2 separate regions of the Homo sapiens genome follow, and region 1 is linked to region 2. Evidence: fine-mapped expression QTL. A gene starts in region 2. The other region holds a variant in brackets. All regions are shown on one strand. Distances are from middle to middle. Region 1 has its middle 5.4 kb from the start of IFNLR1. Region 2 holds the start of GRHL3 (grainyhead like transcription factor 3).

The links.
Region 1: its variant is fine-mapped to the expression of GRHL3 in lung (TOPMed, PIP 0.94).

What each region holds. Positions count from the first base shown.
Region 1 is chr1:24,191,261-24,194,170 of GRCh38, reverse strand. No RefSeq gene overlaps it. Among named protein-coding and RNA genes, the nearest start is that of IFNLR1, 5.4 kb to the right of the region's middle. RefSeq lists an enhancer at 2,674-2,763. The variant G/T (reference allele first, on the strand shown) is at 1,224.
Region 2 is chr1:24,317,827-24,320,736 of GRCh38, reverse strand. It overlaps GRHL3 (grainyhead like transcription factor 3), which reads right to left and starts at 1,380. Exons shown (of 16, transcript NM_198173.3): 1 at 1,169-1,380. The coding sequence starts at 1,185. The region is part of intron 1 of GRHL3-AS1 (GRHL3 antisense RNA 1); the gene reads left to right.

The sequences.
Region 1 (2,910 bases), 130 kb after region 2:
GGCTGAGGCAGGAGGATCGTTGAGCCCAGGAGATTGAGGCTGCAGTGAGCCGTGATCATGCCACTGCACTCCAGCCAGGTGATTCTAATACACATGAAAGTTCCCAAATTACAGATGAGAAAACTGAGGCCCAGAGAAAGGATGTAACTTTCTCAAGACCACAGAGTGATAAAGAAAGAAGCTTTGGAATTGTGTGGTCCTGGATGTGAGTTCCAGCTTCCCCATTTCCACCTGTGTGACCTTGGGCATGTCTCTTAACCTCCCTTTACTTTAGTATCCTTATCTGTGAAATGGGAACTGTGTATACCTCCCTCCAAGCAAGGCCACTTCGCTGCATTAAAGCCGGCGTGAGGGCTGGAACTGAGGTCTCCTGGTTCCCAGGCTGGTGCTCTTACACCAGGAAACTGGCTGTCATCTGTGCACCATCTACAAGAAGGATCTTGAGACTTAACATCTGTAAAGGCTGGCATGGGGAGAAGGGCTTTGTTTTCTTCTGTGAGGCCCCAAAAGGAAGAATTAGATGACTAGGGTAAATTACAAGGAGGTAGGTCAAAGTAAGGGCGATGTTCCTAACTAGAACTGTTCACAAACAGAATTGGCAGCCCCAAAAGATAGCAGGATCTCGTCCCCCAATGAGTCCAAGCAGCAGCATCCAGCTGGTCTCTCCAGGATGTTGAAGAGGGTAGACTTTCAGGGTAGGAAGTTGGTGGGGATGATCTCTAAGGACTCCTCCTCTGCAACCCAGCAGTGGGTGTATGCCGTTTGCCTCTGCAGCCTCCATTCCTCTGAGGAACCAATCTTCCTCCAGTTCCTATAGTTGGAGGAGCTGTCAATCAGAATACTCCCTTACCCCTCTCCCCCGGGATGGGCATTCTACCCAGAGAGGCCAATGACAGTAGCCCATTCTTCTGACCACATCGATTGGCTCAGGAAATGGCATGTGACCCAAGCCAGGCCAATCAGAATCTGTTTCCACTAGAGCCGTCCCAGAGCCACATCCATCCTTGAACTTCTCAATCTGGGGAACTTGCAGAATTCCTTTTGCACTTATGTCAGTTTAGAGTTTGTGTTCTTGCAGCTGGTAAAGTCTTAAATTCCACTCCCACATACAAATGATCTCCTTGTTCTTGTACTGGGCCCTGCCTGCCTCCAGCATTACATTAAAACAACAGCAAGAAGAATAATAGTCAAAACAACAATGGTTTAAAATCTTTAGTTTCTTG[G/T]GGGGGGAAAATGCCAAAAGAAATTTCAGTCCTGACACAGAGCCAAAAATTTGGAAATCCATTTTCTCCACCTCTCTTTCCATACATCTCATATTCACACTCACATTCAGCTCTTAGAGCAGCTGGTCCCTGCACTTGCTCCTTTTCTCTCCACATGTCCCCCAAAACTGACTTTTAAAACCCAGCCCCAATTGGCTTTTACATTTTGCCTCCTCTCCTGCCTTTTCCCAGTCCTATGGGACACTTTGCCAGCCTGCGCATAATTATCTTAGTAGACAGGAGAGGGAGAGGCTGTGAACTCCCTCTCTCTCTCTCTCTCCCTCTTTCTCTCTCTCTCTCTCTCACACACACACACACACACACAGAGTAATGTGGTTTTGTTTCCCCTGTTGCACATTATTATTATTATTTTATTTTATTTTATTATTTTGAGACAGAGTTTTGCTGTCATTGCCCAGGCTGCAGTCCAGTGGCATGATCTTGGCTCACTGCAACCTCCACCTCCCAGGTTCAAGCGATTCTCCTGCCTCAGCCTCCCGAGTAGCTGGGATTACAGGCACATGCCACCACGCCCAGCTAATTTTTGTATTTTTAGTAAAGATGGGGTTTCACCACGTTGGCCAGTCTGGTCTTGAACTTCTGACCTTAGGAGATCCACCCACCTCAGCCTCCCAAACTGTTGGGATTACAGGCGTAAGCCACCGTGCCCAGCCACATTATTTTTTAAACATTATTCTTGGGGACAACAGAAGACTGTAAAATCCCAGCTATGGAGGGGAGCATGACAGTGGAGTTATACTTTCGAAAGAAACACTGAGGTCTTCTAACTATGAGTCATATGCCAAGTTCAAGTCAGTAAACACTTAGTGAGTGGCTAAGGCGTGGCAGATAAGAACCAGGAGAGGGGCTGAGTTGTTTAGGGCATATGAAATTGTGTTTGACTGAGCCCCATTCAGCAAAGGTTTGCTTACTCACAGTTCATTGAGCACCTACTATGTGCCAGGCCCTGAGCGAGTCATTAGAGTTGTATCCAAGAAGTAAGATATTCAGTGCACAAAAATGATGATATTGTGATTAATTCATATCAAAGAGACTGCTATGGTTTGAATGTGGCCTTCAAAATTCATGTGCTGGAAACTCAATCCCCAATGCGACAGTGTTGGGAAGTAGGGCCTGATGGAAGGTGTGTAGGTCGTGAGGGCTCTGCCATCATCAATGGATTAATGAGTCCATAAAAAGGGCTTGTGAGAATGGGTTCTCTCTCTCTCTCTCTCTCTCTCCTCTTCTGTCATGTGAGGACACGGTGTCCTCCCCTTCAGACGACAAAACATTCAGGGTGCCATCTTGGAAGCAGAGAGACTGGGTCATAACCTGAAGGCATCTTGAACTTGAACTTCCCAGCCTCCAGAGCTGTGAGAAATAAATTTCTGTTCTTTGTAAATAACTCACTCTGTGGTATTTTGTTACAGCAGCGCAAAATGGGCTAAGTCAGAGACATACATGGGGATTGGGAGCAAATCAAAGACAGTGGTTAAGAAAGCCTCCCTGAGGAAGTGGCATGTGAGCTGAGACTGAATCAAGAATAGGGGCCTGTTGGAAGACTAGCGGAAGATAAGCCTGGGAAGGAAATTCCCACCACAGGGACCAGTGTTTGAAAAGGCCAGGGGGCAAGAGAAAGAAGGGAACT
Region 2 (2,910 bases):
GTGCCTGTTAACCCAAGTGATTGTGCTGTGAACATGAAGAGCTGAAGGGCTAGCTAGAACATAGAATCCGGTCTGCAGTCAGGACCTAGCACTGCTGTCTGCCCACAGATCTTCAAGTTCTTAAAAGTCTGTTGAGGAGCAGTTAGAAAAAAGATGGTACAATCCTTGCCTCTGCCCACTCACCTCTGAGGGTGGCAGGAAAAGGAGAGCCTGTGTTTAAAGGATTCTGGCTTCTCCTGCCAGCTCCCTGAACCCAATCTAAAGCAGCCCAGATCCCAGCCTCACCCTACCTTCTCTAAGGTCTGGACCCCAAGAAGGACATCATGGTGAAGATCAGCATCAGTCAGTCAGGATCTTAAATCTCAGATGTGGGCAGGAAGGCACATGCATCCTCCCAGCCAAAAGAGGTGACCTACCAAAAATCACTTCTCATCTTCCCCAGCCTTAGAACTGCCTCTGAATGAGAGGAACCACATTTTACTGAACGCATCTTCAGACCATAGCTTTATGCTAAGCATTTTACAGCATTTATCACACTTAACTCTTTCCAGAATTCTACAAAGCATTCTTGTACCCATTTTCCAGATGAGGAAAATGAAGCCCAGAAAAATTGAATGTCTTGTCTGAGATCACCCAGGGACAGAGCCTGGATTTGAACTTAGGTCAAGCCCACTACAAAGAGTACACATGCTTAACCACCACACTGTAACCTTCCCACTTGGGACTGTTCCAACCCAGCAAACAAGTCCCTTTAGAGAAACCCAACTCTCTGCCTAAGACAGCTCTTAGAACTACCTTAAAGAAGTTCCTTTTGGCAAGAAGATAGAAAGCCTCGATGGGATTGGGGTCGTCTGATTTCCAAGGCCCCTTCAGAGGATCAAAAAGTGGTGCCAGAAACCTTCACAGTTTCAGTCTTGTGTTTCCCTGCCTGGCTCGAAACTGCTCAGCAAAGAGAATGAGAAAAACTATTTTCCCAGGGAAACACTCACCTCTAGCTTGAGACTGGGGCTTGCCTTGACACGCCAAAGTAAGATCGTCAGCCCATTCATTTACCCTTACAAATTGCTCTGTGAATCCCGGTGCCGGCCTCCCCGCTCTTCCCCCTCCAGGAAACCCCATCCAGCCTCCACGCTCTGAGAGCGGCAGGTATCCACCGATGTTTACTCACTCAAGTTCATTCGACATCTTCCTGCTCCCAAGCTCCGACGATCAGCACTGAGGCTCTGCTGACCGCTTGTCTCTAATTCTTGCCTGACACAGACATTCTCTGCCCGGGAAAGTGTTTGATTTATGTTGAGGTTTGGGTGTCGAGATTTTGCTGACAGGTAGGTTCCCAGCAGCGCTGGCGCTGATTGGCTACAGGTACAGGTGCCGGCGACTGGAGGTATACCTCAACAGGTGCAGCTGTTAACTCTTAGCCCGCCGAGGAGGGCGGAGCTATGGGGGACTGGCTGGGTGGAGCTGGCCAATTCCTTCCTTGGTGAGGGGGTGGGGGGTGGAGATGAGGGAGGAGGGATGGAGAAGAAAATGTTGGAAAGAAGCAAGATAACTAGAGGAAAAGTACAGGGACAAACAGATAACTTGGCTTAAAGGAAAACTTGATTCCTGTTTCTAGTCATTGTCCCAGATACCCAGAAACATCCCCACCCCCAAATTTCTTTGCCCCCTCCTTCTGTACCACTGGGGAATTCTCAAAGGAGAGAGCAACTTTTCCCAGGTAGATCTTTGTATAAGTTCCCTTTTTTTCAGTTTCCCCTTTAAGGTAATATTTTTGAATAATCTTTTGCAGTTACTCAAGTGACTTCTTTTGGTTCTTAAAGTAACCTACCGTGGTAGATTTATTATCGCTTCCCCCTTCCTCTTCAACACATATTTTACAGATGAGGGAGGAAATGGAGGCCAGAGAGGCAAAGTGCCTTGCCCAAGGGCACAGCTAGCGAGGTCCCAGCCCAGATCCAATCTGCAGTCATCTCACTCCAAGTCTGGCTGCCCCTTGGGCTGAAGTCAGTGGCCTCAATTCAGTAGACATTCATTGAGCACCCGTTGTGTGCCAGACCCTACTCTGGGTTCTGGAGAAACTGAGGCCAGAAAAAACAGGGGTTACTGTTCTAAAGGAGTTTACAATCTGGGGGGTGTGTGTTGGTGGCAGGGGGTGGGGGAGTAAAGGAGAACAGGCTTTTATTGGGTGTGAAGGGGGTGTGGGCAAGCCACATACCTCTGGTCAGCACAGAAGGGATAGAAAAGTTGAAGGCTCCTCTGAAGCCTCAGCCAGCTGGTCATTTCACAGGCTCCAAGTGCTTCGTTCTGTATTGGGAACTTGGGAGAAATTCAATGCCTGTCAGATGAAGTAATTGTGGAGTAATTGCTGTGAGCTGTCTACTATAAAGAACAAGCTTGGTAAACCCCAGAATATCCACAAACACAAACAGGAGAATGTAAGAGCTTTTTAAAGAGCTTCTTCCAGGATTAGTTTGAAATTAAATCTAAGCCAGAGATCTTGGCATCTTTTTTTCCCTCTCTCTCTTTCTATTCTCCCCTCCCCCACCCTTCCCCTTTTGGCAAATTATCTCTTTGCTGTGTCTTCCTGGAAACCTCAACTTGGCCCACTCCTCTCTCTCTTCTCTGGGAACGGCAAGTGAGGTTTCAGCTACCCCTGCCAATTTATGGAGGTTTTTCAGGGTAAAGTCAGAATTCAAAGGAGCCCTCTTGGGGTGGGGTCAGGGCTCTGGAGAGGGGGTACTGGGTTTGAGAACTCTCAGAGATTGGTTTCTCCCTGGAGGCTGTGTTGGGGGAAGCCCAGGGGACCCTAATAAATAATAGTAAATAATTGCTAATAAAGCCACCTCCTCAGAGCAGCCCTCTTCAGTCACCCTTGTTAATAAAGTAGACATTCAATCACTCTGGATCACA